Regions from separate parts of the Homo sapiens genome. Here regions 2, 3 and 4 are each linked to region 1. The links come from fine-mapping of genetic effects on gene expression. A gene starts in region 1. Each other region holds a variant in brackets. All regions are shown on one strand. Distances are from middle to middle.

The links. PIP is the estimated chance that this variant, and not a neighbour inherited with it, causes the effect.
Region 2: its variant is the best candidate, but not a certain one, in a credible set for the expression of HINT1 in whole blood (INTERVAL, PIP 0.72).
Region 3: its variant is the best candidate, but not a certain one, in a credible set for the expression of HINT1 in tibial nerve (GTEx, PIP 0.75).
Region 4: its variant is the best candidate, but not a certain one, in a credible set for the expression of HINT1 in whole blood (TOPMed, PIP 0.50).

What each region holds. Positions count from the first base shown.
Region 1 is chr5:131,161,567-131,169,317 of GRCh38, reverse strand. HINT1 (histidine triad nucleotide binding protein 1) reads left to right here and starts at 4,062. Exons shown (of 3, transcript NM_005340.7): 1 at 4,062-4,223; 2 at 6,642-6,746. The coding sequence starts at 4,113. RefSeq lists enhancers at 3,693-3,742, 4,013-4,672, 4,673-5,333 and silencers at 3,893-3,942, 3,953-4,032, 4,243-4,882.
Region 2 is chr5:131,080,709-131,088,459 of GRCh38, reverse strand. No RefSeq gene overlaps it. Among named protein-coding and RNA genes, the nearest start is that of HINT1, 81 kb to the left of the region's middle. The variant T/C (reference allele first, on the strand shown) is at 4,121.
Region 3 is chr5:130,869,763-130,877,513 of GRCh38, reverse strand. LOC107986449 (a long non-coding RNA gene) reads left to right here and starts at 6,087. Exons shown (of 4, transcript XR_001742881.1): 1 at 6,087-6,305. The variant G/A (reference allele first, on the strand shown) is at 3,631.
Region 4 is chr5:131,703,768-131,711,518 of GRCh38, reverse strand. It overlaps FNIP1 (folliculin interacting protein 1), which reads left to right. Exons shown (of 18, transcript NM_133372.3): 7 at 858-941; 8 at 2,247-2,318; 9 at 4,973-5,108; 10 at 7,253-7,454. Among named protein-coding and RNA genes, the nearest start is that of RAPGEF6, 72 kb to the right of the region's middle. The variant T/C (reference allele first, on the strand shown) is at 3,078.

The sequences.
Region 1 (7,751 bases):
TTAAGATCTGATTGGCTAGTATTGATTACACTCTAAGGTGGTTGCTTAATATTCTATCGTAAAAAAGTAACAATCACAAGGGTCTACAGCTCTAATATTATGTAGTCCAGGTTTGAAACGAAGAATAGGGAGTCTGATTAATGTATAACATCTCAACACAAAGGTCGGGAAGCAACAATAGTCATGCACCAGAGAAGAAAAACAGCTGTATTACATGACTCAGTTTTCAAGGCTTAACTTTGCCCCCTTGGCTTAATAAATTTGGAAGGTTCTGAAATTTCATTGTCTTTTTAAAGTTTGCATCTCAAAGTATAAGTCGCAGAACTGAACAGGAAATTCCAGCATGTTCATCATGTAAGTTCACAGAGCTATGTAGTAGGCAGAATAATGGCCTCCAGAAGATAACTGTTGAGATTCCGGAACCTCTGACTATGTTATATATGACAAGAGGCTTTGAAGATGTCATTAAATTAAGTATTTTGAGATGGGAAGATTATCCTGGATTGTGTGCTGGACTCAGTGTAATCACAAGGATCCTTATAAGTGAAAGAAGGAAGCAGAGTCAGGGAGAAGTTTGAAGATGTTCTGCTGCTGGCTTTGAAGATGGAGGAAGATGGAGGAAGGGGCCACAAACCAAGCAAGCCTCCTCTAGAAATTGGAAACGGTGAGGAAATGATTTCTTCCCTAGAGCATCCAGAAGGAATGCACCCTTGCCAACACTTGATTTTAGCTCAGTGAAACTCAATTTGGACTTCTGACTTACAAAATGCTACCTGTTTTTGGCTCCTTCCATTTTCTTTTCCTTTTTTTTTTTTTTTTTTTTTTTTTTTTGAGAAGGAGTCTCCTACTGTCGCCCAGGCTGGAGTGCAGTGGCATGATCTCAGCTCACTGCAAGCTCCGCCTCCCTGATCTCAGCTCACTGCAAGCTCCGCCTCCCGTGTTCACGCCGTTCTCCTGCCTCGGCCTCCTGATTATCTGGGACTACAGGCGCCTGCCACCACGCCCAGCGAATTTTTTATATTTTTAGTAAAGACGGGGTTTGACCATGTTAGCCAGGATGGTCTCAATCTCCTGACCTCGTGATCCGCCTGCCTTGGCCTCCCAAAGTGCTGGGATTACAGGCGTGAGCCACCGCACCTGGCCCAACTCCTTCCATTTTCAAAGCCAATAATGGAGCTTTTTTTTTTTTTTCGAGACAGAGTCTTACCCTGTTGCCAAGGCTGCAATGGCATGATCTCGGCTCACTGCAACCTCCGCCTCACAGGTTCAAACGATTCTCCTGCCTCAGCCTCCCGAGTAGCTGGGATTACAGGCTCCTGCCACCATGCCCAACTATTTTTGGTATTTTTAGTAGAGACAGGGTTTCACCATGTTGGCCAGGCTGGTCTCAAACGCCTGACCTCATGATAGCCCACCTCGGCCTCCCAAAGTGCTGGGATTACAGTCGTGAGTCACCACACCCGGCCGAGCATTTTCAAATCTCAGACTCTCACCTCTGCCTCTGTGGTCACATCTCCTTCTCTTACTCTCACTCTTCTGTGTCTCTCTTTCACTTACAAGGGCTGTTGTGATTACTTTGGGCCCACCTAGATAATGCAGGAACCTCCCTATTCCAAGATCCTTAACTTAATCACATCTACAAAATCCCACTTACCATGTAAAGTAACATATTCACAGGCTCCAGGGATTAGGACATGGGCATCTTCTGCCTAGCACACTGAGTTTGCGTGATGCCAGTCAATAAGGTTGAAATGGAAAGAAATGAGGTAGAAGCAGCAGCAATGGGCCTGATCACACAGGGCCCTATAAGCCAAGGTAAGGATGTTGGATTTTATTCTGTGATGTTATACACTAGCATATTACCAGCAGGAGAGTGACATTATGATTTATATTTTATAAAGATCATTTTGGGTGCTGTGTGGCAAATTAACTACAATGGAAGCAGATAGGTTATCCAACTAGGAGCCTTTCAAAGTACTCCAGGAAAGAGATGTTAGTAGCTTGGATTAGAGTAGTGGAGATAGAGGAGATAAGTGATTAGATCCTTGGTGATGTGTGTTGAAAGTACAGAGAGAAGGTTTAAGGATGATTTCAAGGCTTTTTGGCTGGAGTGACTGGGTGAATGGTGGTACAGCAGATACAGAATCCTGCAAAAGGAGGTTTTGGTTTGTTTGTTGTGGAGGGAGTCAAAATAAAATTGCAGTGCCTGGTAGCCATCTAAGTGGAGGTGGTCAATAGGCTGTAATGTATGTCACAGACCAGTCTGGAATTAAGGGAAGAGGTAGGTCAAGAGACAAATACTTGAGAGTCACTACTCTATAGATGGTAAAGCCTTCAGATGGAATGAAAGCTGACCATGTTATTTATTATCCAAACCAGCACACATTTTTTTATTTTGACAATTTCAGACACATAAAAGTTGCAAGAATAATACATAGAATTTGCATATGCCTTTCAGTCAGATTCTCCAAATGTTAACATTTTATTGTAATTGCTTTATCCTTTTCTATTTCTCTAATTACCTATAGACAGACACTTTTTCTCTGAACTATTTGAAAGTAAGTTGCGGACATGATACCCATAGCCTTAAATACTTCAGTGGGTTTTTCCTACAAAGACATTCCCTTGTATCAGTAGTTCTTAAAGTATGGTTCCCGGGCCAGCAGCAACTGTATCACCTGGAAAGTTAGAAACCTAACTTGTAGGGCCCCACCCCAGATCAACTGATTTTGACAATTTTTCTGTGGTTATGAAAGGAAATTAACATGACTTCAAAACTATTATCTAATTTATAGGCATTATTTAGATTTTACGAATTGTCCCAGTAATGTCTTTGATAGCAAAAGTACCAAATGGACACTTTTGAGATTAAAGGCAACCACATTCAATAATTTTGCCAAGACAAGGGTAGTAATGTAATCATAAAAGGCAGCTGAGCTCACATCTGTAATCCCAGCACTTTGGGAGGCTGAGGCGGGTGGAACACCTGAGGTCAGAAGTTTGAGAACAGCCTGGCCAGCATGGGGAAACCCTGTCTCTACTAAAAATACAAAAATTAGCCAGGTGTGGTGGTGCGCGCCTGTAGTCCTAGCTACTTGGGAGGCTGAGGCATGAGAATCACTCGAACTCGGGAGGCAGAGGTTGCAATGAGCCGAGATTGTGCCACTGCAGTCGAGCCTGGGCGACAGAGCAAGAATCTATCTAAAAAAAAAAAAGGCATTGAGGAGGTATACTTTTTCTTAATACGTACACTTAGAGGTCTGGTATGATAACTGTAATTGTCTATAGGATTTTATAAATGGATGTCCTTAGTGACCTTGACAAGAGGGAAATGGACTCAAAAATGAAAGATAAGAAAGCAGACATGGTATGTAGAAAACTTCTTTATAAAACGAGCAAAGATACGGAGGGGGATGTGGGATTAAGGAAGGTTTTTTTTTTTAAAGTGGGTCATTTTATTAATACATTATGTTGATTGCTGCTGGGAAAAATTCTTTGCAGAGCAGTCTAGGGAGGTTTACAAACTACTGATGCCTGGGGCTCATCTCCAAAGATTCTTATTTAATGGATCTGGGCTGCAGCCAGGTTCACGGGGATTTTTAAAAGCTCCCCAAGTGATCTTAATGTGTAGTCAAGATTGAGAACCACTGGTAGAGAGAGAAAAAAACTCTGTTGAAGAGAGGACTTAAAATCTGCTGCAGCAGCAAGACCTTAAATAATCTAAGTGCTAAGTTGCAGCCAGCACCACTTAAATTATCAAATCTTGTCAGTTACAGTATCCAACTTTCCCTACAAGCATCCATAGGCAGACGAAGGGTTTATACCAGTAACTGCATTCCCCAGGAGACAAGAAAGGAGGATAGAAAAACGACTTAGGAATCTCCTTGGAGCTCAAGACCAGGAACTTCCCCAAGCCGGAGGTCCCTGAGGCGCTCTAGCGCGCTGGCCGCACTCGCAGCCCAGGTCGCCAGTGCGCACGCGCAAGATTAGGTGGGGCGCCAGAGCCGGGGCACCTGCGCAGGCTTGGCTGCGCCCTCTCGCGCCGCACGCTCTGCGGGTTCCTCCCTTCTTCCGAGCCTCTCCTCTGGCCGCCGCGCGGGAGAGAGGCCGAGATGGCAGATGAGATTGCCAAGGCTCAGGTCGCTCGGCCTGGTGGCGACACGATCTTTGGGAAGATCATCCGCAAGGAAATACCAGCCAAAATCATTTTTGAGGATGACCGGGTAGGTACTGGGCACCACCTCTCTCGCCTGCTGAGGTGGGTATCGTCCGCGGATCCTCGGGTTTCTCGCGGAGGGAGAGGAGGGGTCGCGAGTGTAGCGGCGACGGGAGGGGACCTGGCTGCCCTGGTCCAGCGGGCCCCCAGCCAGCGGACAGGGCCCGGGCACTCCGAGGCGGCCTGCCGGCGCGTGCCGGCGCTCCGGTTACTCGTTATCTGCCCCGGGCGCGGGCCAGGCCGCCGGGCGCCCTGAGTGCCGCACCGCGGGGCCTGGGCGCGTGTCGGGGCGCACTGGGGCCCCCGCGTGGAAGCCCGCCGGTTCCCCGGCTGCCTCGGACCTTGCCTGTATCAGGAATCTCGAAATCTCGCCAGCGCTCTGCCTGACAGAGAGAAACCCGATCGCGCCCTGACTCAGGCCCAATCTCCGCGATCTCCCGCGCACAGCCGGCCTGCCAGGGCCCGGCGTTCCTGGGCGCTGCTCAGCAAGGCATTGTGCTCGAGGGCCCCAGGGGCGCTGGGAGGTGCGCGGGCCGTCTGGGCCTGCCGGCTTCCTCCGCGGGGTGCGGCTTGCCACCCTCACCCCTACCCCTATCCCTATCTCCACCCCAAGGCCTACCCTGGGCTAGCGAGGCGATCTCCTGAGATAAGAAGTGGGCCCGCGTCTGGGATTTGCTTTCCGTTGACCTCTCCCGCTGAACATTTTGGACTTACAAACAGCTGAATGATTCTTTTTGTATTCAACAGGAAGTAATTTTATGCCAAGAGACTAAGACTGTAGTTTTTGTTGACTTCTTGTAGGTGAAATCCCAGTTGATGTGACTTTGAGATATCTTGTGTAAATTATTTAGTGGCCAGTTGTATTTTTGGGATTGGATCTCAGATAAAGCTGGGCAGATTGGCTGATTTAGATAGAACAAATTTTGTAAACAGTTTTGTTAAATTTAGGAAATATAAAATCTAAGAAAAACATTTATTCTACTAATGTCGGTTAGATTCAAAACGTTATCAAAAATTTAATTAGGTTCCTCTAGGTAAATTAAAAAAAAAAATACTTTGTCTCTACTCAGGGGAAATTCTTTGGTTTTAGAAAAAATATTTCTTTTTAAAGTTCGCAGTTGCCTTTGAGAAATGGTTCTTGAAAAATTTACATTTGAACCACCGAAGTCCAACTGTAGAACGGCAGGAAGCATTCTAAATGAATCAGCATTTTGTAGGGAGTACCCAGTAGAATTACTCCTGAGACAAATAAGTGTGGATGGGTTTTATTAAAACAGCTTTCACTTCAGCAGTGAGCAAGAGATTCGAAAATATTCATGTCATATGTGTATTTACAGACACTGTTTTAAATAATTAGTCTAAATGCTAAAGAATATCATATATATACTCTTCAGCTTTACACAAAAGGATAGGTATATTTCTTAAATAGTTGAGTAAAGTGAGAATAGATATTAATCAAGTATCAGACAAATATGTAGTTACAAAACTGATTGCTATCATAAAGAAAAAAAAAAAACCAGGAAATTGCACAACTAGGACTCTGACCTGGGAGTAATGGGACGGGGAGGGCAATCAGAGGTTTTTTTCTGTTTTTTCTTTTTTCTCCCAGAAATCATGTATGTGCTGGGAATGGAATGGCGGAATGACTAGCAGTTTAAATTAGACGGAAGTTGGGGTTTGGAGGGGGAGAGGATCATTGAAAAAGCTCTGAGGGCAGAGAGCTCAGAAGGCCAGTTCCATGTGAAGACCTGCAGGAGATCTGGAGAGGCAGGCAAGGATTAGCATGGCCAATTTTTATGCATTCATTGGCTCCCAGTTTAAATGTCACTGCCTCAGAGTTGTTCTTAAACACTTAATCTAAATCAGGCTTTTCCTGTAATGATCATTCATATTTTTCCTTTGTAACATGTATGACCTTTGGTGATTATACTTTTAAAGTTGGTCTTCCCATAAGACTTCCATGGAGTCCGGGTGCAGTAGCTCACGCCTGTAATCCCAGCACTCTGGGAGGCCGAGGCAGGTGGATCACCTGAGGTCAGGAGTTCGAGACCAGCCTGGACAACATGGTGAAACCCCGTCTCTACAAAAACACAAAAATTAGCTGGGCATGATGGCACGTGCCTGTAATCCCAGCTACTTGGGAGGCCGAGGCAAGAGAATCACTTGAACCCAGGAGGCGGAGGTTGCAGTGAGCTGAGATCATGCCATTGCACTACAGCCTGGGTGACAGAGTGAGATTCCATCTCAAAAAAAAAAAGACTTCCATGGAAAGGACCACGGCACCATTCGTAATGTGTACACTTCTGTTTTCTTAGCATCTAGTGCCCTCCATGTAGTTACTGCTCAGTAAATACTTGTTGAAATAAGTTTTATCCTACCAATATACTAAAAGTTTGATTTATTTATTTATTTCTCTTTTCCCTAGTGCCTTGCTTTCCATGACATTTCCCCTCAAGCACCAACACATTTTCTGGTGATACCCAAGAAACATATATCCCAGATTTCTGTGGCAGAAGATGATGATGAAAGTGTAAGTACATTTCTAACATGATTTATTTTCTTGCTTTTTAAATTGTGAGATTAATTTTGTCCTTAAAGTGCTGTCACATTTTCATCTTCCTAAGGTCATTACTAAGGAAAAACCAGAAAAACCATTAGGACTTCAACTGCCCAGCTGTTTTCCAAAGTTACTGCATCATTTTGTATCCCACCAGCAATGAATGAGCGTTCCAGCTTCTCCGTATCCTTATCAACACTTGCTATTACCTTTTTTTTTTTTTTTTGAGACAGAGTCTTGCTCTGTCGCCCAGGCTGCAGTGCAGTGGCACTCGGCTCACTGCAAGCTCCACCTCCCTGGTTCACACCATTCTCCTGCCTCAGCCTCCCGAGTAGTGGGACAACAGGCGCCCGCCACCAAGGCTGGCTAATTTTTTGTATTTTTAGTAGAGACGGCTTTCACCATGTTAGTCAGGATAGTTTCGATTTCCTGACCTCGTGATCCGCCCGCCTCGGCCTCCCAAAGTGCTGGGATTACACGCGTGAGCCACCGTTCCTGGCCTATTATATTCTTAAAGTAAGCTAGAGAAAAGGTTATTAAGAAAATCATAAGGAAGAGAAAATATATTTACTATTTATTAAGTCGAGTGAATCATAAAGGTCTTCATCCCTGTCATCTTCATGTTGAGTAGGCTGAGGAAGACGAGGGGTTGGTCTAGCTGTAGCTGTCTCAGGGGTGGCAGAGGCAGAAGAAAATTTGCATATGAGTAGACCTGCACGGGTCAAACCCATGTTGTGCAAGGGTCAGTTGTATTTACTTGGGGATACCTTTTTAAAGTGAGACATTATTTCTGAAACTTAGAAACTTCAAGGCATTAATTTTTAATTCAATATATTTGTACAAATCACAGAGTTCAAAGATTAGAGCGAGTACTTAATGGTAAAATACCGTCTTATATGCAATAACATTAAACCCTCAGAATACATTTTTTTCTTTTTTTTTTTTTTTTGAGACGGAGTTTCGTTCTTGTTGCCCAGG
Region 2 (7,751 bases), 81 kb after region 1:
TCAGCTCCATCAGGTCCTTAAAGGACTTCTCTGCATTGGTTATTCTAGTTAGCTATTCGTCTAATTTTTTTTCAAGGTTTTTAACTTCTTTGCCATTGGTTCGAACTTCCTTCTTTAGCTCGGAGTAGTTTGATCTTCTGAAGCCGTCTTCTCTCAACTTGTCAAAGTCATTTTCCATCCAACTTTGTTCCATTGCTGGTGAGGAGCTGCATTCCTTTGGAGGAGGAGAAGCACTCTGATTTTTAGAGTTTCCAGTTTTTCTGCTCTGTTTTTTCCCCATCTTTGTGGTTTTATCTACCTTTGGTCTTTGGTGATGGTGACGTACAGATGGGTTTTTGGTGTGCATGTCCTTTCTGTTTGTTAGTTTTCCTTCTAACAGGACCCTCAGTTGCAGGTCTGTTGGAGTTTGCTGGAGGTACACTCCAGACTCTGTTTGCCTGGGTATCAGCAGCGGTGGCTGCAGAACAGCAGATATTGGTGAACCGCAAATGATGCTGCCTGATCATTCCTCTGGAAATTTTGTCTCAGAGGAGTACCTGGCTGTGTGAGGTGTCATTCTGCCCCTACTTGGGGGGTGCCTACCAGTTAGGCTACTCGGGGTTCAGGGACCCACTTGAGGAGGCAGTCTGCCCGCTCTCAGATCTCCAGCTGCATGCTGGGAGAACCACTACTCTCTTCAGACCTGTCAGACAGGGACATTTAAGTCTGCAGAGGTTACTGCTGCCTTTTGTTTGTCTGTGCCCTGCCCCCAGAGGTGGAGCCTACAGAGGCAGGCAGGCCTCCTTGAGCTGTGGTGGGCTCCACCTAGTTTGAGCTTCCAGGCTGCTTTGTTTACATACTCAAGCCTTGGCAATGGCGGGCGCCCCTCCCGCAGCCTGGCTGCTGCCTTGCAGTTTGATCTCAGACTGCTGTGCTAGCAATGAGTGAGGCTCCGTGGGCGTAGGACCCTCTGAGCCATGTGCAGGATATAATCTCCTGGTGTGCCGTTTGTGAAGCCTGTTGGTAAAGCGCAGTATTAGGGTGGGAGTGACCTGATTTTCCAGGTGCTGTCTGTCATCCCTTTCTTTGACTAGGAAAGGGAATTCCCTGACCCCTAGCACTTCCCGGGTGAGGCGATGGCTCACCCTGCTTTGGCTCACACACGGTGTGCTGCACCCACTGTCCTGCACCCACTGTCCAACACTCCCCAGTGAGATCAACCTGGTTCCTCAGTTGGAAATGCAGAAATCACCCGTCTTCTGTGTCACTCACGCTGGGAGCTGTAGACTGGAGTTGTTCCTATTCGGCCATCTTGGCTCCACCCCCGTTACATTACATTTTATCATGATTAAAGATTTAAAGAAAAATTAAACAATGGAATTACCATATGATACAGCAATTTCATTTCTGAGTATATACCAAAAAGAATTTAAAGCAGGGTCTCAAACAGATATTTGTATACTCGTGTTCATAGCAGCATTATTCACAAAAGCCAAAAGGCAAAAGCAATCTGACTGTCCATCAGTATAAAGACTCTCTAAGCAAATATGTCAAAAAAAGAACAAAACAAAGAAACCCCAAGATAAATGGGCAACAAAATGTGATATTACATACAATGAAATATTATTCAGCCTTAAAAAGGACAGAAATTCTGACACATGCTACAACGTGGATGAATCTTGAAGATATTATGAAGATTGAAATAATCTAGTCACAAAGGACAAATATTATATCATTCTACTCTCATGAGGTAATCAAATTAGAGCAGTCCAATTCATAGAGACAGAGGTAGAAGGAGGGTTCTCAGAGAATGAGGATGGGAAAGAGACTAGTGAGTTATTTTTTTAATAGGTACACAGTTTCAGATTGGGAAGATAAAAAAGTTCTGCAGATGGGTAATGATGGTGGCACAACTATGTGAATTTACTTACTGCCACTGAACTTTACACTTACAAAGGATTAAAATGTTAAAATTTATGTCATGCATATTTTACCACAGTCAAAAATTAATCATATTCTTATGTGCTAGCAATAAAGATATTTAACATAATCATCTGGTGGATCTTCCAATTACCTTCATTATATCCACTCCAGCATGCCCACTTCCCTGAGTTACAAAGGTGTCAAGAACACACAATGGGGAAAAACACATGATGTGAAAGGACAGTCTCTTCATTAAATGGTGTTGGGAAAACTACATGTCCACATGTAGAAGAATGATATTGGACCAGTATCTCACACTATATAAAAAATAAACTCAAAATGAATTAAAGGGTTAAAAGCTAAGACCTGAAACAATGATACTAGAAGAAAACATAGGGGAAAAACTCCATGACATTGATCTGGGTAATGATTTTTCGGGTATTACTGCATAAACATAAGCAACCAAAGCAAAAACAGACAAATGGGATTACGTCAAGCTAAAAAGCTTCTGCACAGTAAAGAATCAGCAGGGAGAATGGGAGAAAATATTTGTAAATGATAAATCTGCCAAGGAGTTAATATTCAAAATATATAAAAATCTCAAACTCTATAGCAAGAAAACAGGTAAGTTGATTTAAAAATGGGCAAAAGACCTGAAAAGACATTTCTCAAAAGAAGATACACAAATGGCCAACAGGTACATGAAAAAATGCTCAACATAACTAATCATCAGGGAAATGCAAGTTGAAGCCACAATGAGATATCACCTAATTCCTGTTAGAATGGCTATGATAAAAAAGACAAAAGATAACAAGTTTTGGCAAGGATGTGGAGAAAATGGAACCCCTCCACACTGTTGGTAGGAACGTAAAAAGGTGCAGCAGCTATGGAAAACAATATGGTGATTCCTCAAAATATTAAAAATAAAATTATGATAAGATCCAGAAATCTTGCTACTGGGGAGCAATGTCTATCTATCTAAAGGACATGAAATAAAGAGCTCCTGATTCTATAATGATGGCATAGAAGCAAGCTGGATTCACTGCCCCTGAGAAAACCAAAACAAATATACATAGCTGAGTGTATCACCAGCAATAGCCCAGAATTTAATATGAGGAAACAGTTCCTGGGGCCACCGAGAGGTAAAAAAACTGAGCAGATGGTAAGAGAATTGGAGTTCCGTATCTGCAGTGCCTGTCTCCCCAACCTACCTGGCACCAGCACTCGGAAAAATTTTTCCTGACTCGTGGTTTCTACGTTGGACAAAGTAAGATTGAGATGAACAATGAGCTCCCTCACCACCTGGGTTCCTTGGCAGGAGATCTTCTCCTGTCTCAATCCATGGGAATCAGTGGGAGTGCCTGAAGGGAGAAATATCCCTGAGGACAGCCAGAGACAAAGTAGGGAGTGGGGCTACCAACCCCAGCTGTAGAAACTCTGCTCTGTAACTTGGCCAAAGGAGATGACAAATCAGAGTGACTGTTAGCAGCAACATGTTGTAGGAGGTTCATTTCACAGGTTGCCTGGGCAGAGACCCTTAGCCAGCCTTCCTACACTACTGGGATAACCAATTTGCAATCTCCCCCATTTTGGATGGGCAGCATTCTGATTGTATACTAGAACTGAGGCAAACTTGGGTTTAATGTGCTATCTAGTGCTGAAAAAGAAGCAGCGACCTAGCAGAAATAAATAAATAAATAAATAAATAATAAAATAAAACAAATCACGAGGTAAAATATAAAGACTCTAAGCAAATATGTTAAAACAAACAAACAAAACAAAAAATCCCCAATATACCCCAACATGAGCCATATAGAGAAGACTGGAATAAATAACTAATCATTCAATGCAAATACATAGATGTATATCCACAAGAAACAGCAGCAAATAAGGAACCATGACTTCCTCAAACAGACAAAGCAAGGTACCCACGACTGAATCTAAAGAGATGGCAATATTTGAACTCTATGACTAAGCATTCAAATAGTTTTAAGGAAACTCAGTGATCTCCAGGATAACACAGAAAAACAATTCAGAATTTTATTGGAGAAATTTAACAAAGGGGTTGAAATAATTTAAAAAACTAACGGAATGGATCAAATAGAAGAAAGAATAAGTGAACTATTTGAAAATGCAGTCAGAGGAGAAAATAGAATGAAAAGGAATGAAGATTGCCTGTGAGATATAGAAATTCACCTCAAAAGAGCAAATCTAAGAA[T/C]TATTGGTACTCAAGAAGGAGTTGAGCAAGAGCAAGGGGTAGAAAGCTTATTCAAAGAAATGACTAAGGCAATAAAGTCAGTACGTTGAAGAGTATCAACACTTCCATGTTTATGGCCGCACTATTCACAATAGCCAAGGTAGAGAATCAACTTTTGTTCATCAACAGATAAATGGAGAAAGAAAATGTGGTATATACATACTCTGAAATACTATTCCACTATAAAAAGAAGAAAATTCTGTCATTTGTGACAACATGTATGAACCCACAGAACATTACACGAAGTGAAATAAGCCAGACATAGAAAGACAAATACCACATGATCTCACTCATATGTAGAATCTAAAAAAGTTGGACTCATAGTACTAGAGAGCAGAATGGTGGTTACCCAAGGCTGTCGTGCTTAAGTGGAGTGGAGGATGGGGAGATGTTAAAGGATATATTAATATAATTAGATAGAAGGAATACATTCAAGAGATCTGTTGTACAGCATAGTGACTATAGTTAATGAACATATATTGCATTCTCGAAAAATGCAAAAATATTGGATGTTAAGCATTCTCATCATGAAAATGATAACTATGTGAAGTAATGCAGTTGTTAATTAGTTAGATTTAACTATTCCACAATGTATATATACTCTAAAACATTATATTGCACATGATAAATACATTTCTAAAAAAGTGGGAAGGGCAAATTTCAGAAAGGTGTAGGGCTGCTAAAACTTGTCAAAGAAAGAAGAAAGAGGATTATTTCAGTTTCCTGGTACCATTAAATGCAGCTGAGACTGATGCCCAGGATCCTATTTTAGTAGTTTTTGCTTCCTCTAGGCACAGAACTTTAGCTTCTTCTTATCTCTCCTATGAGGCCAGGTAAAGTTTCTGGTAGTTTACAGAGAATGGTTATTTTTTCATAAGAAGAACAAAATCTGACTGTATTGTGCCAGGCTTACACATGCTTTGGTTGAGATATATTAGGACAATCAAATATGCACAGTTAGTCCCTCCTACACTTAACAGGGCCACTATCCTTCCTTCTAGGTGGCTTTGCTTCTTCCTAGCCTGATAGTGTCCCCAGAACATATCCACTAAAATATGAGGTTTTGTAGAGAGAAAGTGAGAAAAAGAAACCTGGTGACTGAGAGCTACTACTGCTCATGGTTAAACCCTGGCCTATACCTCTTGACTTTTCCTCTCCACCCTTTCTCTTTACCATGTCCTAGACAATGTCCAAATACATTTCTCTTGTAATGTGAGTAAATTCCAAAGGCTCCATGTTGCCCAGTCTCAGCATGCTGCCACATTCAAAGAAAGAGTTGATCAGGCTGGGCATGGTGGCTCATGCCTGTAATTTCAGCACTTTGGGAGGCTGAGGTGGGAGGATCACTTGAACCCAGGAGTTTGAGATCAGCCTCGGCAACTTGGTGGGACCCCCATCTCTACAAAAAATAAAAAAAATTAGCTAGGTGTGGTGACACACGCCTGTGGTCCCAGCTACTTGGCAGGCTGTGGTGGAAGGGTCACTTGAGCCTGGGAGATTGAGGCTACTGTGAGCCATAATTGCCCCACTGCACTCCAGCTTGGGTGACAGAGTCAGATCCTATCTAAAAGAAAAAAAAAAAGGGAAGAAAGAAAGAGTTCATCAGTCAAAAGTATGTAATTAAAATTAATTCAAACCTTTACTTATGCCTCTCAAAGATAATTAATGGAGATCCAATTCAAAATTCACAGGACCACTTTTAAAGCTAGTTATTTTCCCATTCTTCTCACCCTCCAGTTCTCTCACAGCCCCCCTGCTTCCATGGATTTTGAATCCCTGTCAGATTCCTTAGTTTCCTGTGCTCACTGATGACTTATTTCTGCACAATAGGGTTGAGTGGTGGTGGGGGAAGAGACATACCAAAGTTCCTTAGTGGGCTGGGATAGGAAAGTCTGTTGGTTTTGATTATAATGTCCTTGAACTTTTAACACTTTATTGAAATTAATTACTTACATGTTTTTCTCTAACACTTAGATCAGCAGCCTCCCACAGAAGTATCCTAGTCCACTAATGTGTGGGAATCAGGCTGGACTTACACTACTGTTCAGGGAATTATGTGTAACTTTCATGGTATGCCAAAGCCTGAAATGAGTGATCATAAAAATCTGGATGAATTAAAGCAGTAAAATTTTACACAGTAAAATCTGAAAGGGTAGGGACAGCCACCACATGCATTCCTATTCCTTAGCTCTAGAAAGAATGAATATATGCACTTTCATCATGTAGATTGGGATTTATTTATGCCTTAAACTACCGTAATTATAATATAGGTCTGAATCACAGATCAGTTTCTTTCAGCTTGAAGTTATTAACACAAATTTTATGACCCACATATTCCTAAAAGGAATGAATTGAGGCGGAGGAATGAAGAAGAAAGAAGGCAAAGGCCAATTCTTAACTCAGCTGATGGATACAACTTTTGGGAACTTTTCATTTTTTTTTTCCCCAGGAAGGATGAGTCTGACATTATCAGTTCAGATCTCATGATGCAGTATTTGCTTGAAACCCAGCATGATATTTGCTGCTAGAGATTTCATATGACTCTGTATTGATTCTGTACTAAAAGGATATAGAAAACTTGTTTTAGACAAATAGTGAATGTGTGCTGGATGATTTCTCTCTCTTTCTCTCTCTTTTTTTTTTTTTAACTTTGCTTTGTCATATGTTATTGCCAAACTCCTTGTGCTTATGTGCTCATGTGGCTATGTTCTCCTGGGTAGCATTCCATCTGTTTGATTTACGAAATCTGTGATGCTGTCCTTTTGGCTTGGGAAAAGTAGATGTGGTTTGGGTGCTAGAATATGAAAATTCAGTTTCTGCTAATGTACGTATCAAATCAGTAAATCACCAGATAAGTCAGTGGCAGAGAATTAAAAGTCACGCTCTTGGACAACAGTACAGACTTTTGCAAATAAACATTTTTTTTAATCAATTTTCCCCTCTTATAATATCAGTCCTTTTTTGGAGTGGCGTTAACAGGAAAAAATTTGCCTTAATCATCCTTTCATGTGACATTTTAGTGAATACCTTTTGTTGGATTATTTAAATAGAGAATTACAAACTCTTTTACATTATAAAGACTTATAAAGGAGTTGTAATCTTTGAAAAATAGCATAGGGATATTCAAACCCATCTTGCCAACTGGTCTGAATTATCGCAACTCCACATAGCAACTATTCATCTTTTTCTTATTTTTGATTGCATTGGATTTATCATAAATTTAATATGTTTATATTTAGTATGTTTCTCTTTTTGTTCCAAAAACAAAAACGATATTATTTTTATGCATTAATTTTGGAATTTTATATATTTTTAATGTTAGACCTTTTTTTCAGGTGAATACCAACAGATATTATTTAAACCAGGTAGGAAATCAACTGATGGAGAAGTGATTTACTTTAATTGTTTATTACAGGTCTGCTCCTGTAGACAATCTGTAGTTGGGTCTTTTCCCATCCACTTTGCCAGTCTCTCTTTCAAGTAGTATATTTAGACCACTCAAATGTGAAGTGATTTTTGATATAGTTGGATTAATCTCTGACCACATTTTAACTGTTCTCTATTTCCTTGTTCTTTGTTTCTTTTTTTCCCC
Region 3 (7,751 bases), 290 kb after region 1:
CCTTATAAAACCATCAGATCTTGTGATACTTGTTCACTATAATGAGAACAGCATGGGAAAGACCTGCTCCCATGATTCAATTACCTCCCACTGGGTCTTTCCCACAACATGTGGGAATTCAAGATGAAATTTTTGTGGAGACACAGCCAAACCATATCATCTGCCTATTAAAAAAGTGTATACCCCCAGAAAATCCTGTTCCCTTCCATGATTGATTTTTCATCTTAGCATTTATTACCACACAAGGTACTATACCTTCTCTCTCACTCTTTCTTATGGTCCAGACACAGGAACATAAAAATACATTTTTAAACAAAAATATTTAAATAATAAATATCAATTTGTATTTTTTTTTTACTGAATGATGTAACTTTGGATATTTGTCCATGTTTGCACCTCACTATTCCTAACTGCTGTTTATTAGTATTCCCAATAAAGATATACCATAATGATTTATTTATTCTCTTACTGATGAACATTTCTCCCCAGTTTTTTTGCCATTGCAAAAAATGTTGCAATAAAGATCACTTTACAACCTTCCTTTTATGTAGTCACAGGTTTTTCTAAGAATATTTAAAAGGAAGTAGAATTTTGGGGTCTTGGGATATTGTTTGAATGATCTATTCTCCATAAAGAAAAATTACTTCAAAACATCCACTTATTATTATAGTTATGTTAAAATACATTTATTATTATCTCATAGTTATCTTGGTTGCTTGGGCTCAGTTGAGTGATTCTCGTCTGAGTCTTCTTGTGGTTATAGTCCGATGGCTATTGGGCCTGGAGTCAGTCATCTGAAGGCTCGAGTGGGCTGATAGGCAAGGAAGCTTCTTTATTTACATGTGTGGAGCCTCATTTGGAATGACTGGAACTGATGGGGGCTTGTCAGGCATCTTTCTCTTTCCATGTGTCCTCTTTACATAGCTAGCTTGTGCTTCCTTATAGCATGGTGATCTGAGGATAGTCAGACTTCTTACATGACAGCTAGCTTCCCCCAGAGCAAGTGTTCCAAGGAGTAAGGTGCAAAGATTCTTATATCCTGGACCTGGAAGTCCCTGAACATCATTTCAGATGCATTCTGTTGGTTAAACAGGGAGAGAGGGGAGGGGACTACATAAAGATGTGTACAGTGCAAGATAGGGCTCATTTAGGGGCCATATTTGGAGATTAGCTACCAAGGACGTGGGTTTCTCATTATAGTTTAGCAGGTTGGGATTAGAACTAATGTCAAATTAAAATGGAGATTTAGTGAAAAACAAGCCACAGATTAATAGAATAGGTGTATTTAACCTTGTAATGATACTTATATAGTGATTTCCTATAGTCCCTGAAATGATTTTGTGTTCCCAGTTGATCCACACAACGTGTTTCCAGGGAATTAAGCAATCTAGATCCAATAATCTAGACATTTCAGACCTGGAAATGACCCATATGTGTTTTTAGTTTCCTTTTAACACTTATAGATGAGGGAAATAGGGTTCAGAGAAGTTAGGGTAACATGTTCAAGGTAATTAGTATAAGGAGTTTGTAGCAGGACCAAAAATAGTACTCAAGACTCTTTCAGCGTTCTTTCCCTTATGTTTTATTTTATTATAAATCAGCTTCAGTGAGTAATAGTGCATCTACTCTAGGAAGATGTTTGTATTCATGTAAGTTTAGTAATATTGGAAGTGGTGTGGGTGGTAACTCTTATTACTTAGTAAGTAGGGTGTAAGTTTTTTACACCCTACTTTTTTTGTAAACTATTTGCAATGTTTTTTAAATGACCTATCCCTTAGAAATACTATATGCATTGCTTCATTTCACTTGGTAATATGTTTCAGGGAATAAAATAAAGTTTTAACATATGTTTTGTGGTTGAAAAACCAGGGATCAACTTGTTTCACAAAACTGAGTCTAGAAGCTGGCTGGGAATGATTTTTGGGTCCCAGTTCGTGGTCCACCACTGGGTGGTGAGTGTTGGAACTGCCAAAGAAACATAGGGATGCTTGGTACATGGGATGAGAAATAATTGGAACATACCTGGCATGATACTTCTAAGAAATCTATTCTGGTTTTTGGAATACAAATATATTAATTTATTCTAAAACTTTCCTAGGAGATATGATGCAGATGTTATAGAGGGTGCTTGGGCCCTAAGTGAGTTCCATGGTTCTCATGGAGTTCAGATGCTATTCATTGGCATACCCCAGATTCAGAGCTTGAAGTGGAACTGAGCTATTGAGCTCAACTACTCATCAGGAATTCTGTTGGTCTGGCAGGAGATAAACCTGGATGATTACCAGAAGCAGCTGTGGGCCAGATGGGACTGGCAATGCTTGCTGCAGCCTAATTCCCAAGAACTTCAGTGCTCAAGAAGAAAGGCATATGCTTTGTCCCCCTGCTGCCTCCACCCCAGACCAAGCTAATTCCACCCTTCATTCCCTTCTCTGTTCTCTGTCTTCTCCTCCCACTCAAACTTCACTCAGCATCAGCGCCAACTTAAGAGTTCCTTTGCAGCTTTCTCTGGCAACTCTGTTCTGCACTCTCAAATCTATTTCACCTGTTAGATTTTTTTCAAAATAGCATCAAAAAGTGAGTGTATTTAATCATACTCAGCTCATAATAGAGAAAATTGGTGAATAGATTAATAATTCATGCTCCAGCATTAACTGGCAACAGAGAAAGTTGGTCACAGGAAGGCAGAAGAACCTCATTTTCTTTCTTTTTTTTATTATTATTATACTTTAAGTTTTAGGGTACATGTGCACGATGTGCAGGTTAGTTACATATGTATACATGTGCCATGCTGGTGTCCTGCACCCATAAACTCGTCATTTAGCATTAGGTATATCTCCTAATGCTATCCTTCCCCCCTCCCCCCACCCCACAACAGTCCCCAGAGTGTGATGTTGCCCTTCCTGTGTCCATGTGTTCTCATTGTTCAATTCCTATCTATGAGTGAGAACATGTGGTGTTTGGTTTTTTGTCCTTGAGATAGTTTACTGATAATGATGATTTCCAATTTCATCCATGTCCCTACAAAGGACATGAACTCATCATTTTTTATGGCTGCATAGTATTCCATGGTGTATATGTGCCACATTTTCTTAATCCAGTCTATCATTGTTGGACATTTGGGTTGGTTCCAAGTCTTTGCTATTGTGAATAGTGCCACATAAACATACGTGTGCATGTGTCTTTATAGCAGCATGATTTATAGTCCTTTGGGTATATACCCAGTCATGGGATGACTGGGTCAAATGGTATTTCTAGTTCTAGATCCCTGAGGAATCACCACACTGACTTCCACAATGGTTGAACTAGTTTACAGTCCCGCCAACAGTGTAAAAGTGTTCCTATTTCTCCACATCCTCTCCAGCACCTGTTGTTTCCTGACTTTTTCATGATTGCCATTCTAACTGGTGTGAGATGGTATCTCATTGTGGTTTTGATTTGCATTTCTCTGATGGCCAGTGATGCTGAGCATTTTTTCATGTGTTTTTTGGCTGCATAAATGTCTTCTTTTGAGAAGTGTCTGTTCATATCCTTTGCCCACTTTTTGATGGGGTTGTTTGTTTTTTTCTCATAAATTTGTTTGAGTTCATTGTAGATTCTGGATATTAGCCCTTTGTCAGATGAGTAGGTTGC[G/A]AAAATTTTCTCCCATTTTGTAGGTTGCCTGTTCACGCTGGTGGTAGTTTCTTTTGCTGTGCAGAAGCTCTTTAGTTTAATTAGATCCCATTTGTCAATTTTGGCTTTTGTTGCCATTGCTTTTGGTGTTTTAGACATGAAGTCCTTGCCCATGCCTATGTCCTGAATGGTAATGCCTAGGTTTTCTTCTAGGGTTTTTATGGTTTTAGGTCTAACATGTAAGTCTTTAATCCATCTTGAATTAATTTTTGTATAAGGTGTAAGGAAGGGATCCAGTTTCAGCTTTCTACATATGGCTAGCCAGTTTTCCCAGCACCGTTTATTAAATAGGGAATCCTTTCCCCATAGCTTGTTTTTCTCAGGTTTATCAAAGATCAGATAGTTGTAGATATGCAGTGTTATTTCTGAGGGCTCTGTTCTGTTCCATTGATCTGTATCTCTGTTTTGGTACCAGTACCATGCTGTTTTGGTTACTGTAGCCTTGTAGTATAGTTTGAAGTCAGGTAGCGTGATGCCTCCGGCTTTGTTCTTTTGGCTTAGGATTGACTTGGCGATGCGGGCTCTTTTTTGGTTCCATATGAACTTGAAAGTAGTTTTTTCCAATTCTGTGAAGAAAGTCATTGGTAGCTTGATGGGGATGGCATTGAATCTATAAATTACCTTGGGCAGTATGGCCATTTTCACGATATTGATTCTTCCTACCCATGAGCATGGAACATTCTTCCATTTGTTTGTATCCTCTTTTATTTCATTGAGCAGTGGTTTGTAGTTCTCCTTGAAGAGGTCCTTCACATCCCTTGTAAGTTGGATTCCTAGGTATTTTATTCTCTTTGAAGCAATTGTGAATGGGAGTTCACTCATGATTTGGCTCTCTGTTTGTCTGTTATTGGTGTACAAGAATGCTTGTGATTTTTGTACATTGATTTTGTATCCTGAGACTTTGCTGAAGTTGCTTATCAGCTTAAGGAGATTTTGGGCTGAGACAATGGGGTTTTCTAGATATACAATCATGTCGTCTGCAAACAGGGACAATTTGACTTCCTCTTTTCCTAATTGAATACCCTTTATTTCCTTCTCCTGCCTAATTGCCCTGGCCAGAACTTCCAACACTATGTTGAATAGGAGTGGTGAGAGAGGGCATCCCTGTCTTGTCCCAGTTTCTGTGACTGGCTTATTTCACTTAGCATAACATCCTCAAGGTTTATCCATGCTGTACCATATGACAGTATTTTCTTCTTTCTAAAAGGCTAAATACTATTCCATTATATATTTATACCATCTTTTCTTTATCCATTCATCAATTGTCAGTGGACAATTAGATTGTTTCCATCTCTTGCTTACTGTGCATAATGCCACAATGAACATGGGAGTTCAAGCATCTCTTGCTGCCTTCAAAATTTTCTCTTTGTCTTTGACTTTTGACAGTTTGATTATAATGTGTCTTAGTGTGATCTTCTTTGGGTTCATCCATGATGGACTCTGTTGGCCTTTGTGAATCTATATGTCCATTTTCTTTCTTAGATTTGGGAAGTTTTGGGCCATTATTTCTTCTACTTCTTTCTTTCTCTCTTTTCCTTCTGAGACCCTATAATGTATATATTGGTGTGCTTGCTAGTGACTCATAGTCCTTGGCTTTCTTCCCTCTTCTTCATTCATTTTTCTTTGTGTTCCTCTGATAGGATAATTTTAAATGACTTGTCTTTGAGTTCACTGATTCTTTCTCCTGCTTTCTTCTGCTTCAAATCACTCTAGTGAATTTTTAAAGTCAGTTATTTTGTTCTTCAGCTCCAAATTTTTTATGTTTGTTACTTTGTAGTGTTTTCTATCTCTTTGCTGTTTTCCTGAGCTCATGGGGCATCCTTATGAAGATCATTTTGAATTCCTTGATAATTCATATACCTGGGTTTCATTAAAGTCGGTTTCTAGAGATTTATTTTATTCCTTTGGTTAGGCCGTGTTTCCCTGTGTCTTTAGATGCCTTGTTACTTTGTGTTTGGATGCACACATTTGAAAAAAGAACTACCTCCCCCAGTATTTACTGGCTTCATACGGGGACCTTCACAAATCCGACTGGCTAGTGATTCTGGTGACTTCTCAAAGATTTTTTGGTAATGTGTCTTCTCCAGACTTATGCATGTAAATTCTTAATGACCAGTTTTCTTTTTTCTGAAGCTCATTATCTCGTCCTCCCTCTGGTGTTTGTCTGGAGTACTACAGGTTCTCTGGAGCTGCCATTGGCCACCCAGGTTTTATTCTTAGTGGCACCCTGTCAGGGTCCCAATAGCATTCTTAGTCAGGTTAGGCAGAAATTCATTACTCAGGCAGATGCTGGAGAAGCTGGAACATTGGACACATGTTCCACTCCCTCCTTTCCCCCTGAGGGGAGAAGCTGCCAAGTTGCATCAGCCTCTGTCCTCTGCACCATAGGTCCTTGGAGCAGCAGTAAGCTACTCGGCTGTTTTTTGTTCTTAGTGATTCCCAGGCATCTAAAATATGCTGCAACCCACAAGTACCCAAAACGGATGAAACAGAAGCCAGACCCGCAGGCAGCCCTCTGAAAAGCTGGAAATGTCGGATAGAGACAGCAACTCTTTTTCCTCCCCAGCAGGAAGTCAGGAGTTAGGAGTTTTCTCCCACTTGTGCTGTGCTGAACTGGGGGTAGGGGAGGATGGCAGGTGAGTTTGTTACAATTCTTACCATCACCTTTGTTCTTAGTGGGTCCCAACTTGGTGCTGTTTCTTGTCCATGCTCATATTCATGTAAGACAGAAACCAGTCCCTTGGGTAGCCCCACAAAATGTCTGAATATTAGGCCTATGTTCCAGTCTTCTCTTTCCCTCCCTCAGGAAGAAGCTGGGAGTTGAGAATTACCTCAGGATCACTCTGGGCTATGCTGGGGATATGGGCTCTGTTGAGTGAGTGCCACAAATTTTCCTGTTGGTCAATGTGACTGGTTTCATGCTTCCCCAGGGTGCAGGAGCCTCTGACCTAGTTTCTGGATTTCTCACAAAGGGGTCTGGTCCATGTGTTGTTGTTGAATCATTGTCTGTAGGGGGAAAGAATGGTTTGGAGCTTCCTATTGTGCCATATTGCTGATGTCGTCCCCCAAGGAGGAGTGTTAATGCATAAATGACTTAGAACAGTTCCTAGGATTTAATAAGCACGCAACAAATCTTAGCTACTTTTATTCTTCTGCCTTAAGAAGGCTGAATATTTTTCTTATATGCCCTATTACTTATGTTACTTTGAAAACTGTTAAAATAATGTAATGAGAATTATAGTGTTAATAAAAAAAATCCTGATATGTTGACTACAACTTCAAAAGAGAAAACAGAAGAACTAAAGTGAAACCATATTTGTTTCTTTTGAATAACTAACACACTAGTCAGTATAATTACTGGTTCTTTTAAGATTGACATGAGAAGCATTGATGGGCAGTAAGTAAACATCAGTGCTGCTTTATGACAGTTTCTGAACAGCAGAAATTTCTGTGGTCTACAACTACTGTGATCCAGAAGGAATTAGACTAACAAAACTCGTAAGACAAATAAATAATACCATTAAACCAGAACCTCTTGGCAAGCTATAAGAGAGTCAGTTTTTTTGTTTTTTTTTTTTTTTGAGATGGAGTCTCGCTCTGTCACCCAGGCTGGAGTGCAGTGGTGCAGTCTCAGCTCACTACAACCTCCACCTCACAGGTTCAAGCAATTTTCATGCCTCAGCCTCCTGAGTAGCTGGGACTACAGGTGCATGCCACCACGCCCGACTAGTTCTTGTATTTTTAGTAGAGATGGAGTTTCACCAGGTTGGCCAGGCTGGTCTTGAACTCCTGACCTCAGGTGATCCACCTGCCTTGGCCTCCCAAAGTGCTGAGATTATAGGCATGAGCCACTGTGCCCGGCCTAGAGTCAGTTCTTATTGAAGTTACTTAAAATGCCACTGGACTTCTATGGTAAGTCAGGCACTACCTGGTTTCAAATCTTTGTTTAGAAAGGCTTTGTAGATGGCAATAGTGGGCATATATAGTCATATTCCTCTGTAGATATAATATATGTCATTATAGCAATTTCTGAAGCATTGCTATGGTTAAGACACTATATCTGAACTGGAGTACTTTTGAGA
Region 4 (7,751 bases), 540 kb before region 1:
CTGTTTCAAAAAAGGAAAGAAGAAACATGCAATTGTCACTTTTTAAAACAGAAAGCCCCGTATTCCATCCTAGTTAAATGTCCTTCATGGCTATTTAGACTATTTTCATGAAGCATAACTAACAGGTAACCCAGCTGCTTGCTTTCAGGCTATAATGTCCTTCTTGGGTCTTCAGACTGCAGTTACCTTTTCTTGATGAAGCATGTGGCAGCCACTTCTCTTGAACAGCTGGGAGTCTGGTCCCTGATGAGCTTCATTTGTGTTCCTCCTTCCACAGTGGCTGACTCCTGGTTTAGTAACCTTGGTTTCTTCCATTACTTTGTAACTTACAACTGGGTTAGAAAAACCAATTTTTAATTTGTCAGTAAGATCTCTTCTGGTTTTGCACCCTGTTGTATGCTGTGTGCCAAGTGCTTAGGTGGTTTTCTCCTCGCTGCAGTTGTAGGCACATACTATAATCTTCAAACAACTTTAAAAAAATGAATTTATTTGGCAAATATCAGATTAGATAGATAACATTATCGTACTTTTTCAAATCTTTAAAAATACTGCTTTACATTAGAAAGGATTGAACATTTAAAATAATTTTTACTTTATATAGCAGAAGCTTGTTTTTATTACATATAGATTTATTAGTAAAAATACATGAAGTTGTTGTTTCATATAAATCATGGCTAAAGAAACACCATCCTGTTTCAAAAATGGGAAAGACAGCTTGAATTCTTATTTAGTTTAAAAGTTTCCATCCATATTTGTTGGTCTGCTCTTGTGCTGCCTTAGCTCACCTTTTTTCCCTGACGCATTGTGGCTTCTCTAACAGTCCTCTTTCATGTGTATTTTACGTTTTTGCCATGTAGGTCTTTCACAGTTCTGCAGCCCCAGGCGGGCATTCTCTGAGCAGGGTCCGCTCCGCCTGATCAGGAGCGCCTCTTTCTTTGCAGGTTTGCGATGTGCTGTGTGGGTAGACTAGTTGGTGTGCCCCAACGGCTAGAATCTGTAGTTAAGCTGTGGAAACAAGAGAGTAGATGAATGCAGTTGGTGAGGTTGTGGTTAAGAAAACATTGCATTAGGAAGTATAAAAACTTAATTCCTTTTCTACTGAACATGTTCTTAAAGTTTCCAGACACCGGATTATCAGTAGAATTGACATTTTTATGAAATTTCAGTTTGTCATTTCTCTTGTGGCATAATGATTTTAACTTCAGAATCTGAAACCAAAACTTAATATGAACTTTATTTCTTATGATACCACTTGGAATTTTTAATGTGACACTGTCTTGTTTCCATGGCTGAGTAGCTTTTGTACCATAGTTCACCAATTGCAGAAAATTATCCTATCTTGTTATTATTGTAAAATTTCTGATCTACACTATTCCATAAGAGCAGTTTTTCTTGGAGCTAAGATTTAGATGAACAAGCACTACTATAATGCTCTGTAAAAGGCATATATGACTATATTTGCTTACATAATCAAGTTGATGATTGTAGAGTATGTTCATGTGTATATATCCAGGATTCTAATCATATTCCTTGTTTTCACACATTTTAGCGGATTACCTAACATTGTAACCTTTTAGTGGAAATTACTGGAATGTGAACACATTTACTCTTCATTGTTCTCAGATTGGTATCAATTTAGCCCTTCTTGTTTTGATTAATATTTTCTTTCCCTGTAAATATTAGATATAAAAAATATATATTTGTAGAAAACTTGGAAAACACTTTTAAAAGGCAAAAATATATATTAGCCATTTTATCAGCCAGAAATACCTGCTTTTTTGTTTTTTAAAGAAAATGGGGATCATACTATTCAAATAAATATCTCAATTTATTATAGAGAATTTTGAAACATACATTGTTATAGGCAGAAACAGTACAGTGAACTATGATATACCCACCACTTGGTCCCAGCAAGCACTCATACTGTTCAGTAGCTTGCTTTTTTTCATTTAATAGTATATTATAAATATGTCACTGAATATGCTTCCAAAATATGACTTTTAGTCACTCCTTGCTTCTTTAGATATTATGTTTTAGATTCTTATACTGTGTATCAAATCTTCACAGAGCTCTCAAAGCTTGTTCAACTGAGTAATAGCTCTTGGTGTTGGGTTGGTGCCATGCTATTGAAAAAAATAAGGGAATGCAATGAGATGAGCATGATTTCGTTTGCTATTTAAAAGGAGCTGTTCATCCACCTGAATAGCAATATATTTTATAACTGACAGTTTCATCTTTATTTATAGTTCACAGCAACCCAATGGACATGCCTGGAAGAGAGCTCAATGAGGACAGAGACAGTGGCATAGCACGGTCTGGTAATGTCACGTTCTTGTATTCAGTTTTTTATGAGATTACTGTTGGCATTGATTTTCTTTTTTATCCCTCCCTTTATTATCAAATTTGTTCATATTGATATTAGCCTTACAAGAGAACTGTGAAAAGACCAGAGCAAAGTCTTATAAATTTAATATTTTTCATGTTTACTTTTAAGTGTGCTAAGTAGGATAAAGCCAGGATGAAGTAAAGCCAGAGTAAAGTACACTGGTTGAAGCTTAGTGAATATAAGAAGAAAAGCATTGGTCAGAAAAACTGCTTAGAAACTGTAGTAAAAAAAAAACACGTTTGCTTATATTTGCTTGCTGCTAACTAAAGTTTAAATTGTCATATTGTCTCTTGCCCAGAAAAGCATAGGCATTTTGAATCAATGTTATACTTTTTTTTTTTTTCCAAATATGGACCTGTCCAAAATTTGTAGGTCTAGCAAACATTTATTGAAACATGGTGGACATTAAAAAAATTAAAGCCCAGAGTCTGCCCTTACGGAACACAGATGTATGGAGTCTACTGGGAGAAAAATTAGGAAAATCATCTGTCATAGGTCATTGTGTGATGCATTTAGTGATAGGCCTGCGCAAAAAGCTTCAGCGAAAGAGCACCACACTTAGCCTGGGCAAGGGGCAGGGATGCCAACAATGCTTTACAGAAGGATGATGATTGAGTTGTATTTTGAGAAATAAATAGCAGTTATCCAGGCAAAAGCTCAGAAAAGCATTTTAGCTAAAAGGAAAAGTGTT[T/C]GTTGGGGCCCAGAGAGCAGCATAAGTAAAAGGAGGAGTAATTTTAGGCTTGAATTACTGTTAGATATGAGAAACTTAATTCAGTGTGATAGCATGTGTTGTTACATTATATGGCTCTGCTATCGAAATTGTTTTGTAATTCAGTTTTGAGTATAAATGAAAAATCTAAACTTGCTGTATATTGCAATCCCTAGGTATGTATTAGAATAACAAAGAGAAGTTTTATAAAAAATTCAAGTGCCTGAACTCTACTTTCAAAGACTCTCGTGTAACCTAGAGAAGGTATCTCTAGGCATCTGTATTTGTGAAACAAAACAAAATGCAAAACCTAACACTTGATTCTAATGGATAGCTAGGGTTGCCGACCACTACTCTAATAAGAGTAGCTTGTGTTTTTCAAGTAATCTCATCTTTCTTTTCTAATTGAGTTTCTTATTTTTGTTTTAAAGAATCTAGAGTTTATTTCTTTTAATAAACTTTGCTTCGATGTAATCTAGATATTTAGTCTTCCCTGGCAGGAATTTAATTCTCATTATTTTATTTAAGATTTAAGTATAATTTATTTATACTTACATTCTTTGTAAGTTGAAGCATCTGGCTAGACTGATCTGTTAGGCTGCTTCAAGTTATTGGATTCATATATGCCATTTAAGTTAATGTGTGTTTTCTTTTTTTTCTAATAGGGTTATTTTTAATATTAGAATGCAGTGAAATGTATTTTTTCCAAACTTAGGACAGCATTTTATTTTTCACTGAAGTCATACCCAGATTTAGTTGTACATACCCAATCTTGGACTACAAGAGTTTATAATACTAATTGATAAAATGTGGTCTGCATTTAGAATCTGCATTCTAAAGTAATTTAGAATGAGTTCATTGATGGTCTACATGTTTGCATGGCACATACAGCTTTATCCTCTATCATTGAATTTGTCAGAATTCAAATGAATAGATCTTCATAATGAAAGTGTCTCAGTTTTTAGTGCTGGTGTCCAAAATAATTTATCATCTGGCCTGTACCTTTTTAATAGTGATGATAATGGTTCCCTGTTTTGAATATACATTTTCAGTATGTGCTTATGATCATGAAAGATAGAAGTCTGGAATATTGCCAAACAAAAGCAAGCCCTTAATGGCAAGTGTTATCCTCTCTAAATCCAGTGGGGAAAAGCCTGATGAAAATCTCCTAGCCTAATGAAAAATCAGCAGTTGTAGCTCTTAACACCTCAAGCAATAAACATATCTTACAGATTTCACAGAAGTGTTTCGGGAAGGGAATAATCCATCCCCAAGATCAGGGGATTGCAGCCGTGAAAGAGTGGAGTCTGCTGGAATGTGTTTGTCACCTTAGATGCTCCAGGGAGCATTCTTTTTTTGGAGCTTAGTAGGTATAGTCATGATTCTTAATTAAAAGTGGTAGGTTTGACTACATGTGCACATGTGATCCATGAATACTTGTAAATGACCTCTTTAAATGCCATTCAGACACTTATTTTCAATAGCTTGTTCTTAAAATCCAGCTGCTGCATTAAGTTTGAATAGCATCAGATTTCCTTTAATTTAAGAACTAAAAGGATTCAACTGAGTTAGGGGACAGTCAATCCAGTGGCCAAAGGGATAATGCCTTGTTGCAAAGTATAATTTTCTTCTGGAGTCCCTAGAGGGGAATGCCAAAAGGGGATTGTCTCAGAGTTTTTTGCTGATACATTGTTAATATATGATTTTTCTCCTCTGAGACCTTGCTACAAGAAGGATGTGTTCTTTTAATGAACATTTTTGAGGCTCATGAAGCAAAATAAAGTTTAACTTAACCTATTTGTAATTTTGTTAAAAAGAAATTTGTCATTATGCTTAGTCATTATTGACTTATACTTGTTGTTCTTCTGACTTAACAGCATCTCTCAGCAGCTTGCTGATCACTCCATTTCCTTCCCCAAACTCCTCACTTACCCGAAGTTGTGCCAGCAGCTACCAGCGACGTTGGCGACGCAGCCAAACAACAAGTTTGGAAAATGGGGTATTTCCTAGATGGTAAGTTGGAACTTTAAACACAGAACAAGATTGAGTAGTTCCTTAAACACAATTTTATATGGGTTTTTTAGAACCTGGACTTGTATTCTGTGTATTTTAAGTTTGAAACTGAAAACTTTTAAAATTTACTACATTTTTAAAATTGTGGTAAGTTATACATAACAAGTTACAATTTTAACCATTTTTAGGTGTACAGTTCAGTGACATTTGTTTAAATACCTTCATATTGTTGTGCAACCATCATCACCATCCAACTCCAGAACTTTTTCCTCTTCCCAGCTGAAACTCTGTATCCATTCAACGTAATTCCTCATTTCTCCCTTTTCTTCCTCTTGTAACCACCATTCTATTTTCTGTCTTTATGAATTTTCATTCATACCTTGTATGAATGAAATCATACACTGCTTGTCCTTTTGTGTCTGCCTTATTTCATTTAGCATAATGTTTTCAAGGTTTATCGATGTTGTAGCATGTGTCAGAAATTCATTCCTTTTTATGACTGAATAACATTCCGTTGTATATACATACCACATTTTGTTTATCCATTTGTCTATTGATGGACACTTGGGTTGCTTCCACTTCTTAACTATTGTGAATAATGCCGCTCTGAACATGAGTGTGCAAGTATCTGTTCGAGTCCCCATTTTCAATACTTTTGGTTATATATCCAGAAGTGGAATTGCTGGATCATATGGTAATTTTGTTTTTAAATTTGTGAGGAACTGTCACGCTGCACACTGTTTTCCATGGTTACTGTACCATTTTACATTCCCACCAGCAATGCACAATGGTTCCAATTTCTCCATATCTTCACCAGCACTTATTTTCTGTTTTTTTGATAATAGCCATCTTAATGAGTCTGAAGTGGTTCCTCATTGTGGATTTTATTTGCATTTATCTAATAATTAGTGAAGTTGAACATCTTTTCTATTCTTTTCTTTTCTTTCCCTTTTGAGTCGCCCAGGCTGGAGTGCAGTGGCATAATCCCGGCTCACTGCAGCCTCAACCTCCCTGGGCTCAGGTGATCCTTCCACCTCAGCCTCTCAAATAACTGGAACTACAGGCTTGCCACCACACCTGGCTAATTTTTTTTTTTTCTTTTTTTTTAGAGATGGGGTTTCGCCATGTTGCCCAGGTTAGTAGAACTTCTGGGCTCGAGTGATCCACTTGCCTCAGCCTCCCAAAGTGCTAGGATTACAGGCATGAGGCACCACATCTGACTTGATCATCTTTTCTTGTGCTTATTGGCTATTTGTATATCTTTTTTGGAGAAATGTCTATTTAAGTCCTTTGCCCATATTATAACTGCATTTTTTTGCTTTGTTGGTGATGTCTGGAAATTCTGTATATATTTTAGATATTGATCCCTTATCAGATATATGATTTGTAAATTTTTTTTACATTCTGTGGGATGCCTTTTTACTCCATTGATAGTGTCCTTTGATGCACAAAAGGTTAAATTTGTATGTAGTCCAGTTTATTTTTTTTTCCTTTGTTGACTGTGCCTTTTGTGTTATATCCAAGAAACCATTGCCAAATCAGTGTCATGATGCATGATGCCTTTACCCTTTGTTTTCTTCTAAGAGTTTTATGTTTAGGTCTTTGATTTATATACTACATGTTTTGATATTTCAGTTTTTCATGTTTTTATTTTGGCAAGGTAATTCATTCTTGAAAGATTAGTTTTTAATCTACATTAAGTACAACTGTAGATACTAAAAGTTCTTGTTTTCTCCTCTTTTTTATTTCCTTTATTCCTTCATCTTTGACTTTACTCCTGAAATCAAAAACAGACACCAGAAGGGCCTAGAACAGGGAAAAGATTGTACCAGACTCATCTATAAATCTTAAAATTTAGCCACTTTTTGGTTGATTATGAATTGGGATTATCTACTTCTTTAGTTACTTCTAATTGGACAAAAAAATGTTCCCAATCTGACTCTGTAGTAAAATTTCTTACAAGAACATGAACCTGAAAGAATAGCCAGTAGATTTCTTAAAGAGATATACAATTGGTATGAAATTATAGGTTTGTTTGATAAAACAGCAAAAGACTTAGCTTACCTACATTTAATTAGCAAGAAGATTAAATTGTGAATTTATTTTTACTTTTGTAAATTAATAAAAAATCATTTATTTTTAAGGTCTATAGAAGAAAGCTTTAATCTCTCAGATGAAAGCTGTGGCCCTAACCCAGGAATTGTGCGGAAAAAGAAGATTGCAATTGGGGTAATCTTTTCATTGTCCAAAGATGAAGATGAAAATAACAAATTTAATGAATTCTTTTTTTCACATTTTCCTCTCTTTGAAAGCCACATGAACAAATTAAAGAGTGCAATAGAACAGGTAAGCATAGTTATTTATTTATGTATTTTCCTTTTAAAATCTTATTCTCCCAATTAAGCATTATATTTATTAATTTGGCAGAAAAATTAACAGACGTTGTGCATGTGTCCTATAAAGTGCTCTGGTGGATGCAAATAGATTGAACCCTTTTTAAGGTGCTTACTGTCTAGTAAAAGATATAAGATCATTCATCCATTTGTTCTGTAAATAAATATTTGAGGGACTAAAATGTGGTAGACACCGTTCTACCAACTAAAGAGAAGTGATAAAAGCAACACTTCTGACCTCATGGGACAA